Linked DNA regions of Homo sapiens. The gene in region 3 interacts genetically with the main gene of each other region. Each region holds a gene or a part of one and is shown on either strand. Other genes may lie near its edges.

Region 1 (3,500 bases), on a different chromosome or scaffold from region 3:
AAAAATACAAAAATTAGCCAGGCATGGTGGTTGGCACCTGTAGTCCTAGCTACTTGGGAGGCTGAGTGGGGAGGATCACCTGAACCTGGGAGGTTGAGGCTGCAGTGAACTGTGTTCGAGCCACTGCACTCCAGCCTGGGTGACAGAGTGAGACCCTGTCTTAAAACAAATAAACAAATAAGAAAATGGCACACATTTCTCCTGTTGAGCCACAAGAGGGAGGGGCTGTGTGAACCTCATCTGTAGTTTAGGGGCAGCTTTTATTGGAGTTTCTTTACCACCGGCTTTAAATGTGTTCAGAGTAGAATTAGGACTTTCCCTTCAGCAGAGCTTGGGATCTTAGCCCTGGCAGAATTCCAGGGATGTCTTTATGTTTTAAAGTCGCCAGCTTTTGGAACTGTGGGAGGCCTCTGGTATTCAGCCCTGCCGCCAGACTGTGGGGCCACTGGGGTGCTCTCCGCTCTCCAGTCTCGCCCCCACTTCTGTACCTCAGGAGGTTTCTCTGCACCTCACTCCCTCGCGCCCAACCTTCCATGAAGCCCGTGTGAGGGAGTTGGCAGGGGGCAGAGGCGGGCTGTGCTGGGGCTCCCTGGAGTCCTCATCTGTCACGCCAGTCCCCACACGGTCATGAACTTCCACTCATTTCCCCTCACGCAGGGCATCCCGCCCTGCTGCCTCGCACCAGGGTGAAAGCTGTGGGCTCCTTCCCCAAGGAAGGGCTCGTCCTGTCTGCATTTTGATTAATTTAGGTCCCTTTGCATTGCCAGCTCTCAGATGGCTTTACCTTTGATTTTGTTGCTTGTTTGGCTTGTTTTCATCTTTAGGGCGAGACAGTCTTTTGTAACTTTTCTACCTTCTGACTAGAAGTGGATGCCGCCTGCATTTTCTTAACACCTTTTTCCCCAGCTTATTTTGGAAATCGTCAGACCTACAGAGAGCTGAAAGAACAGTACAGTTAACATCTGTCCACCCTTCACACAGATTCACCACTTGTGAACATTTTAATGCATTAACTTTATGTGTCTGTCTACTTATTTATGCATTTGTATGTGTATACTTTTTTCTTTTTTTTCCCCTAACCCATTTGAAAGTAAGTTGCAGCCATCATAACCTGGATCTCCCAAAAACAAAGACGTCCTCTTGTGTGACCACAGTTGAATTGTCCTACCTTAGAAATTCATCATTGATGTGATAATACTGACTAAGGTAGACAGTCCACAGGCCATCCGGAAAATCTGGAAACATTGACAAATATGCATGTCATTGTCAAGGTCATATCCAATCTGTGAAAAATAAATCATCTGCATTTCTAGACATCTATTAGTATTTTAATTCTCCCCAGCTCTCCCCAAAACATCCTTTTTAGCTGCTTTTAAAAAATTCAGCGTCCGTTGAAAGCACCAGTGTTGCCTATGACCTGCCTTTTTACCTCTTTTTACCTAGAAAGTCTCACTTCTTTTTTGGGAGACTCTTTTATGACAGTGACATTGCGCTGTGTCCAGGCCAGTTCTTTTATAAAATGTTCTACGATCTGGATTCATGCATGTATTTCCACTTGATGCTGAGTATTTTAAGATAATTCAAGAATCAGGTTTTCGTACAAAACAATCGCAATGCTTCGGCACTGCACAGGCCACAGAAGCCTGCGGCTGCCTCCGGCCCCGCCTGCTCCCGCTCCCCCAGGCCTGCCCTGCCCTTTTTCTTCTCTCCCTGCTTCTCCCTCGCCCTCAGCCCAGCAGCGTCTCATGGGCAGTCCAGGCTTTCGGGGCCAGGTTGGGCAGCAGCCCCTGCAGCCGGTCCCACTGAGTCTGCCCTGCCTTCCAGATTCTGGTACAGGTCAAAGAGGTCCTCTCCAAGCTGAGCACGCTCGTGGAAACCACACTCAAAGAGGTGCGCGTTGTGGGGCAGTGCGGGGAGGGCCAGCGGGGGTGGGCTCTCTGGCTGGGGAGGGGCCACAGAGCTCAGGAACTCACGGATCCACCTCCCTCTCTCCCTCACACCCCACCCCTGTGCCTTTCCTCCTGAATATCCCATTTCTCTCCTGGCCTCTTGGTCTTCGTTTGTGTTCCCTGCTTGTGTCTCTTGCATGATTCTTCTTGGTCTACTGTGAACTCTTACCCTTCCCCTCACCTCTGCCCCCTCCCCACGTCTCTCTCTCGGCCCGTCCCTCTCCGGTGGCCTCTTTTCTTTCAGACAGAGAAGATTACAGTATGTGGGGACACCCATGGCCAGTTCTATGACCTCCTCAACATATTCGAGCTCAACGGTTTACCCTCGGAGACCAACCCCTATGTATCCTTCTCAGCAGAGCCACCCTCTCCCCACCTCCACCCCCAGCCGCAGCCTCAGGTCTGCACAGAGTGGGAGGAGCCCTTGCCAGGAAAAGACGTGACCTTGGAAAGGAGAGGCCTGGCCATGCTGGGGCACCAAGGTGTGGGTGGAGCTGCAGGCTGGCCATGCACCCCAGGCTCCAGGCTCGGACAGGCCTGGGCCAGCACCCACCTGCTGTGTGACCTAAGCTGGTAGCTCAGTCTCTCTGGGTCTTGGCTTGTCTTCGTCTGCCTCAGGATCACATTTGAATGGCACCTGGCACTGGCCACACTTGGGTTCCATCCTGGCTTTGCCACTTCCCAGCTGTGTGACCGAAGCAGGTTACTTCACTGCTTGGTGTCACAGTTTCCCCATTTGCAAAGAGGGATAATAATATGTGCAACCTTGTTACTCAGCAGTTACTGAGAGGACAGGTTAAGAACAGGGCCTGGCCCACACCTGATGCTATCTAAGTATTTCCCCGTGTTATGGTATCTGCTCGATGAACGGCCACTTGTAGGGCCACTAGGCCTATGCATTGTTGAGTGGGAGGGCCCGTGTCCCATCTCCCCCATGGCTCCAGGCCTCTCTGAGGAGAGCTGAAGGAGGTGGACTGACTAGTCCCCGCACCTCCCCGCCACTGGCTTTCCGGGAGACAGGAGGCAGGGTCCTCAGTGCCATACTACTGAGGCTCAGCGGCCAAGCTCTGGCTGGAGCCACGGTGAGGAAAGGATTAGAAACCCAGATCCCTTGAGCCCTGCCAAGTCCTCACTCCCTGGGAGGTGCTGACAGGAGGCTTGAGGCCAGGCAGGAGCAGCCCATCTGGCCCATCTTCTGCCACCACCCCCAACCCCACCGCACCGCACCCTTCCCCTCCACGCTTGCCATGTTTTCCTCAGCAGGACAGATATTTAATGGTGACTTTGTGGACCGAGGCTCCTTCTCTGTAGAAGTGATCCTCACCCTTTTCGGCTTCAAGCTCCTGTACCCAGATCACTTTCACCTCCTTCGAGGTGAGCTGGGAAGTGACAAGGTTTGGGTTCATTGTGGGGTCCTGAGTGGGGCACTCACTCTGCAAGGATAATAGTTGCAGCTGTATTTATTTTGTGGACTCGGAGATCATGCACAGGGCGACCTTTTAAGATTGAGTATGTAGTGCACTGCACAAAAGCATCACACCAAAGGACGCG
Region 2 (3,982 bases), on a different chromosome or scaffold from region 3:
CAGGGAACATGGGTAGAATGCCCCTTGTCACATTTTATCTTAATGGAGACAGCAATAAATGCCACTCTGCACAGGATTGCTTGTGTCCTTCCACGGCACCCCATTCCCTTCAAGATAGAGCTAAAGCCTCGGGGATCCACAATCAGTGCACCCTCCTGGTCTCAGCCCCTCCCTGCCCTGGTAGCCTTGTTTTTTAGGTGATACCTGGCAAAACTGAAGACTGCCCAGTATGCAAAGCCTGGCTCATCAGCACACCAGCTTCTTCCTACTACCCACCATGTGCACAGACATACCTGGCCAAAGTCACAGGTGCCCAGTGCCCTCCACAGAACCTACTCCATGACTATGTTCAAGTCACTTGATGCAGTGTGCAGCTCACAAGCACACCAGACTCTTCCACATCTCTATGCCCTGGTACAGGCTGTCCCTTCTCCGAGGACCTCCTCAGCACAACGGACCCCCTGCCAAGACTGAGTTGGAATTTAGACTCCAGAGTTCCCCCGTGTTAGTGCCAATGATGGATGTTTTGCATGGGAAGCACCATACCACTACATACATCATTGTGACTCACCTCTCAGATTCTCTAGTCATTATTAATCCCACAGGGTTGCAGTTCTCAACCTTCAGTAAACATCAGAATCATTCTAGAAGCATGTTGAAAGTGCAGATCCCAGGGCCCTTCCACCAGGAGATGTAGTTAAGTGAATCCAGGATGGGGGCCAGGAATCTGTATTTAACAAGTAGACTATGTGATTCTGATGCACATGGCCCTTGGACCCCATCTTGTAAAACACTATAGCAGAAAACCCTATTTGAGATATTCTTTAAGTCTCATATCATGGCCATATGTATTTTTTACATGATCAATTGCTATGTTAAGGCAGTTTTTGCAGAGCACAAGGCCAAAATCAACCAGAGCTCAGTAAAATCTATTTGTCGGCTGTCATGAATGTCACTTGCTGTGCATCTGATCTACTTATAAAGATGAGTTTCTAAGGTCAGGACTTCAACACCTGCCTGGCCAACATGGTGAAACCCCGTCTCCGCTGAAAATACAAAAATTAGCCAAGTGTGGTGGTGCATGCCTGTAGTCCCAGCTACATGGGAGGGTGAAGCAGGAGAATCACTTGAACCTGGGAGGCGGAGGTTGCAGTCAGCAGAGAGTGCACCACTGCACTCCAGCCTGGGCAACAGAGCGAGACTCTGTCTCAAAAAAAAAAAAAAGAGTCTCATTTGGTCATTTAAAAGATCAAGCTGTGAATTCACCTGATAGTTTACAGTCTGGTTATTTAGGAACCAGATCTCGAAGGCAGGAAGATTTCTCCAGCACTATGGTCTTCGGGCAAAAAGGGCCATTTGGGGCTGAACATGGCAAAATAAACTATTCCAGAGCCAAACACAGGGCCCAATATAAGATAAAGAACAGTCGCAGCTGCATGAACCTGTGGCAGAGGCACTGCACTCAGAAGCAGCAAATGGGCCAGAACCCAAGGCTCTGGGTGACCATCAGCAAGGCTTGGCCAGTGGTGTGGAGAAACACCATTCATCCCAAACCAACCACCTAAAGCAGGATCAGAGTGGAAGGACTGGGCTGGGAGGGCTCCAGAAAATGCTCACTGCTTCATTCACCCACTCAATAAGTGTGTGTCAAGCCCTGGGCTAGAAACAAGGGCTGCAAAGATGACTTATACAGTCATGGCCCTCCCAGAGCAGAGGGGCTGACCAGCACGAATGCAGATGGAACTCATTGCCATTGCCAACACCAATATGAAAGAGAGGCCTGTGAGTTGAGAGATCAGAGAAGGAGCAGGGAGCAGGGAGGTGAGAGAAGAGGTGGCAATGGTACAGGGCTCAAAGGCTGAAGAGGAGTCAACCAGCCAAAGGGACAGGGAGAGGAGGGAACTCGAAGTGCAAGGAACAGCATGTGCAAAGGCACAGAGGCAGGAAGGAGCAGAGCCTGCTGGGAAAAGTAAGCAGAATAAGAGGTTCCAGGGTGGCAGATGATGAAGCTGGAGTGGTGGGCCAGACCAGCAAGGTCAGGTCCATTCCAGTAAGATCACTTGGATATAGAAAATGGATTGGCAGAGAGGGCCAAGACAGGAGGAGGAGGAGCACTGAAAAGGTGGTGTTGGGCATCTGCCTGGGGCTGCTGGGCTTGGGGTACACTGACCAGTGAGGACCAGGGGACCTCAAGTCCCTCAGGCACACCCAAGGGGGTGGCGAGTGTATGAGGGGGAGGGTAGATTATTACGCAAGGTCAATAAAATGGTGTCTCTGCATTTTGTCCCCAGGCAGCTCTCCAGATACAAAAACTAGAACCAGCTGCAAGCCCCAACAGGGACCCCCTGCAGCCTGCCTTCCCAGTCAATCAGAGGAAAATTAATGAATCATACACACAATGCTAATCTCCCAGTGGGGTTAGAATAGGGAAGGCCCTTTGCTTTGTCTCCTGAAATCTCAGCAAAAGCTACTATATCCTAATGCCCATAGCGCCCAGACACCTCAGATGCACCCCTTACCTCCTTGGCTTGCGGCTTACAGGGTGCGGATGGGGCCGCCCATGTCTCAGGTGAGGAGACTGAGGTCCACAGTGGGGGTAGGATGCTCCCCAGATCCAGTGTGACGCTCTGCGCCCCGGGCCAAGGGCAGGCAGCGCGCCCGGCTTCCCGGAGGGTTCGTACCGGGGCCCACTCGGCCCCGCCCCCGGCCGCACTCCTGTGCCCAGGGGGCACCAGGCGCGGGGCAGAGCCGCGCCTGCTTCACCTGCTCCTGCTGCCCCGATGCTGCCTGCGTGCGGAGTGGAGCGGCTGCTACGCTCCCGCCTGCGCCCGCCCAGCCTGCCCCTTGCGCCCGCCCACGAGAGGGCTCCAGCCGCCCGCCTGCCCCGGGACCCCAGCACTCGCCCTGGGGAGCCGCATCTTGAGCCCCCAAGGCCTGCCCGGAACTGCAGCCCTGCCTGCGTGTGTCTCTCACGCCCACCTCAACCCTGGATACAGGCAGGCTGGAGCTGCGCTGTCTTTCTCTCTTTCTTTCTTTCTTTCTTTCTTTCTTTCTTTCTTTCTTTCTTTCTTTCTTTCTTTCTTTCTTTCTTTCTTTCTTTCTTTCCTTTCTTTCTTTCTTTCTTTCTCTCTCTCTCTCTCTCTCCCTCCCTCCCCCTCCCTCTCTCCCTCCCTTTCTCTTTCTCCAGGAGTGTTTCTCTCTGTCTAGGGGTGTGTGCGTCTGCCTGTCTCTCTCTCTCTCTGCCTCAGTTTCCTCATCCATGAAATGGGTATAAAAAGACCTGCCTTTCATAAGTTCGTCCAGAAACATTACTTGCAGACCTCCTATGAGCCTGGCTCTCCTGCTGGGCACCAGAGCTGGACAAGACAGGCTCCCTGTCCTTGGTTCCTTCTGGAGCTCTCAGCCCTGGGGGAGAAGACAGACAGGGTACAAGGAAAGAGGGAAATAAATTATTACAGGGGGTGAGATGCTGTGAGCAAATGGGTTCGATAGGCCAGATGGATGGCACAGCCACGGCAAAAGCCCTGAGGCTGGGAGCATTCAGCCCCTGGAGACCAGGGGAGGGCAGTGTGGCTGAGAATGTCAGCCAGGGTGAGGGAAGGAGATGGGCATCCAGGGTGTGAGTGAAAACTCAGGGTGGGCCCTGGAAGTGGAGTGTCTTATCTCAGGCAGTCCCAAGGTTGTGGCGATGAGAATTCAATGAGAATGGTCACTTTCTCCTTTGGAGCTGAGATGCACATGACTTGGCTATAATGGAACAGCTTTGCTTACAAGGGCTGCTCCTGTTTTGAATACACTAGCTTATAATTCCCTGCCCCCCATCCCCACATGGCAAAGTCACATATGCGCTTAGAGAACCTCCTGAGAGTAACAGATCTGCTTCAAGAGCACCTCCTAAACACTGGACATACACACCTGTCCAGTGAACCTCCTGTGGCTCCCCATGGAAATGTCCCCATGAAGTCATGGCAGTGGTCCCTCT
Region 3 (3,500 bases):
CATGCCTGTAGTCCCAGCTACTCAGGAGGCTGAGGTGGGAGGATTGCTTGAGCCTGGGAGTTTGAGGCTGCAGTGATAGGTGATCACACCACTGCATTCCAGCCTAGGTGACAGGGCAAGACCCTGTCTCAAAAAAAAAAAAAAAAAAAAAAAAAAAGAAAGAAAAGAAAAGAAAAGAAAGAAAAAAGATACCAACATTACTGTGTGTGAGAACACCAACTGAATTTCTCTCTCACATTGTGCTCAAACTCAGCAATTATTTCTTTAATTACATAAGATCTGTATCATCATTGCAAAAACATACCAGTAAAAGTTTCAGTACAGGGGTTTATGCCAGCAAGCCTCTTTGATGTTCCGAAGTCAGAGATCTTGAGAACACCACTGTAGGTATTAATCAACACATTGTCACCCTAGAGAACAGAGGACTTTAATCACAATTGTTATCTTTCTTCAGATACTGTCTGTTGTTGACTTGGTAAGTCCAATTTAAAAAAAAAAAAGGTGTCCTTACAGCTACCAACGACATTAATTCTGTATTCTTCATTAATAGTTTATCTCAATAGTGCATTCTTGACACTATTTTTTGTTTACATATTATCAGTTTGAAACCAACCGCCTTTGCGAAAATTACAACAGTGAGAAAATTATGACAGTAAAAGAGATCTGATCTAACCACCACCATCTTGCTTTAAATTTCCAAACTGCCCTTGGTCATTCCAGGGTGTAGACCAAGCTCACTTGGAGAAATTTAATTTATAGTTTAGTTGATAATAGCCCTTCCCCAAAACTAAACTATCTTTGTAAAACTAATGAAAGGCCACCAGGTTAGGAGGATGAGAGGGGCCTAAAGTCCGCTAAGATGTAGGCACAGTCAAATGATTATCAGCCCATTATTCTGGGGGTCACAAGATTTGCAACTTCCCCAATTGTTCCTATAATTGACATCACTATTGTAGAACTGAAGACTGGCCTTTTGAGATGTCTTTACAGGCTTCTCCATTTCTGACTATCAGATGGCATCACCCAGACCTGTGACTCTGGACTCAACCAGTCCTGTGGCCCCTACCCAGAAGTGGACTCAACACACAAGAACCATTTTCCACACCCCTATAATTACATCCCCAACCACCCAGACCCTAGCCCCCTGCTCACCAAACTATCTTTGAAAAACCCTAGCCTCTAAATTTTTGGAGAAGCTGATTTGAATAATTATAAGATCCAATATTTTGTTTGGCCATCTCTATGTGTATTAAACTCTTTCTCAATTGCAATTCTTACATCTTGAGAAATCAGCTCTATCTGGTCAGTGGGCAACATGAACTCATTGGATGGTTATAAGTTCTTCATAATCTGCTACTCAGATCACAAGATCAAATATGATTCCTAATTGGTTAGAGCTTGTTGCTATTTACAGATATATAATGATGTATGTATAATTAAATTACGATTTTCATAACTTTCCAGTTACCTTACTTTCTTTTCTATGTTTCTTTACTTCTTTTCCTGGAATATGTAGGGACATGATAGATAAATGGGCTTTTTGGTTGATTTTAGGGTACTAATATTAACTTATTTTCAACAGTCCAGACTTTGTAAAAAATGTATTAGTTCTGAATTTTCTTTTTAAAAAGAGAATGTAAAGTTATTATTTTAGCTTATTTTAGAGAATCTATACCTTATAATTATAGTTAAATCAATGAATATGTGATACTTGTGAGAAAAGAGGAATTTTTTTTCTTCTAACCATTCATCCATTGATTCAATAAGTATTTACTGAGTAGCTACTATGGGCAAGGATACAAAGATTAACCAGCCTATAAGCTCCTCAGGACCAGGGGCCATCTCCTGTTTAACTTTTGACAGCTGCATCCCACACCACAGAGCTCCTAGGAAACATTGTGTGGTGGGAGCACAATCTTGTTGGCTGAACGCAGTTAAGCAGTGTGTTCCTTGAGCAGAAGCGTTAAGACATGAACATAAATAACTGATTCAGGGTTGAACGATATTTTATATTTCTGCTGTTTCTAAGATTTACTTATTCACCATTCTAAATTAATACTCATAACACAATATGACTTTTGCAAGTAAAATAATAACCCAGCAAAGAAAGAACTCATGAAAATGAATGCTGGTGTACCTCACCTTTATGTCCCGGTGAACTATCTGATTGTCATGGAGATATTTTAATCCTTCCAGTATTTGCTTTGTATAAAAGCCAATTGTTTGCTCATTGTCTTTTAATGGACCCCATTTGGAACGAAGGAGAGCAGAAAGACTTCCTGTAAAGTAGGGATAAATAGTAAATAAATCCTCATTCAAATGAGCTCTTTAAAGTGTATTAATAATGTAACAGTAATTTAAGCTAACAGTCATTGGTTCTTCACAGTGGCCCAGGAGCTATACTGGATATCGGGCTCAAACATGAATTTGCAAATATCCCTACTCTAAAGATGCTTGTAATCAAATATGTCTAAGTAAAAGGCCAATGTCAATTGCCAACTTTAATTCAAGTCATGATGATAGATACTGAAATGGTTCCCATATTTATGTATTGTCTCTGTGAAATTACATAATTCACATGTAAAGCTTCTAGAACTTTAAATTATTTGAGCCTTATTATTTAAGGAATGTGACTTTGTGGCCTGAGTCATATAGCATTCAGTTGTAACTTCTGATTCTGCGATTATAGGCTAAATCTCTTCCGCATTTTTGTCCTGTAAATGATTGGAGAAGACTGAATGGTGCCAAAGAAAAGATCCCCCGAGACCATTACCCCTCCTTATGGAACATTAAAATAATGTGCCTTGGAATACAGCAAGCTGTAACCACTTAAATGTAATGACTTTGGGTAGAAGATGTTGCCACCCTGTTAGTCTTCAGCTTATATAAGTGAAACATGAACTTCCTCACTTTGGAACACTGGCCCATTCTTTTGGAGTCTGTGTTTCCTGGGTGGCTATCCTCAAGCTTTGCACTGGAATAAACTCTATACATTAGGATATTTTCTAAATCTCATCATTTATGGTTGACATCTCCTAACAAACTGGAGGTAATGTCACATGTCCAATTTTTCTTTCAGTTTAGACAGATTAAGACCTGTACGCTAGTAAATCCCATTCAATTTTACTCCCCTCCGAAGCTCTAAACATTCACACTTTTTAAAGAAAGAAATATCTCTTACCTCCAGGGACCTGCTCCATGAAGATTTTAATGAAACCATTCTCACTGAAAGAGCCCAGATACTGGACAATATTTTTGTGCTTCAGGTGTTTATGCAATGCTATTTCTTCATGCAGGGGCTGAGAGTATCTAAAAGACATGCAATTGTCAATGAGTTAATTATGTAGCCAGACTTTACTGTATAAATTTAAACAATACAAATGGAAAATGTCAGCCAAATATATGTCCATATGTAAAACCAAAACAACCACTTAAGGCCTTTATTTCTCCTAAGGTAAATTCTATGAGGTTGAAGGTGTGGTAGGATCTGAGGGGAAATG

What was found. Genes that interact genetically often act in the same process or in processes that back each other up.
Region 1: of MAP3K5 (region 3) and PPP5C, changing one suppresses a phenotype caused by changing the other (phenotypic suppression), as found in Homo sapiens cells (one study listed by BioGRID).
Region 2: changes in MAP3K5 (region 3) and NPY4R together harm fitness less than expected from each alone (positive genetic interaction), as found in Homo sapiens cells (one large-scale study listed by BioGRID).

What each region holds. Positions count from the first base shown.
Region 1 is NC_000019.10:46,381,587-46,385,086, forward strand, and holds part of PPP5C (serine/threonine-protein phosphatase 5), read left to right. Parts: exon of another isoform or gene 1-938; intron 939-1,824; coding exon 1,825-1,890; intron 1,891-2,193; coding exon 2,194-2,292; intron 2,293-3,217; coding exon 3,218-3,323; intron 3,324-3,500. UniProt on the Homo sapiens protein: Serine/threonine-protein phosphatase that dephosphorylates a myriad of proteins involved in different signaling pathways including the kinases CSNK1E, ASK1/MAP3K5, PRKDC and RAF1, the nuclear receptors NR3C1, PPARG, ESR1 and ESR2, SMAD proteins and TAU/MAPT.
Region 2 is NC_000010.11:46,463,159-46,467,140, forward strand, and holds the start of NPY4R (neuropeptide Y receptor type 4), read right to left. Parts: upstream 2,801-3,982; 5' UTR 2,520-2,800; intron 1,575-2,519; exon of another isoform or gene 728-1,574; 5' UTR 572-727; intron 1-571.
Region 3 is NC_000006.12:136,610,978-136,614,477, forward strand, and holds part of MAP3K5 (mitogen-activated protein kinase kinase kinase 5), read right to left. Parts: intron 3,310-3,500; coding exon 3,182-3,309; intron 2,280-3,181; coding exon 2,143-2,279; intron 411-2,142; coding exon 305-410; intron 1-304. UniProt on the Homo sapiens protein: Serine/threonine kinase which acts as an essential component of the MAP kinase signal transduction pathway. Plays an important role in the cascades of cellular responses evoked by changes in the environment.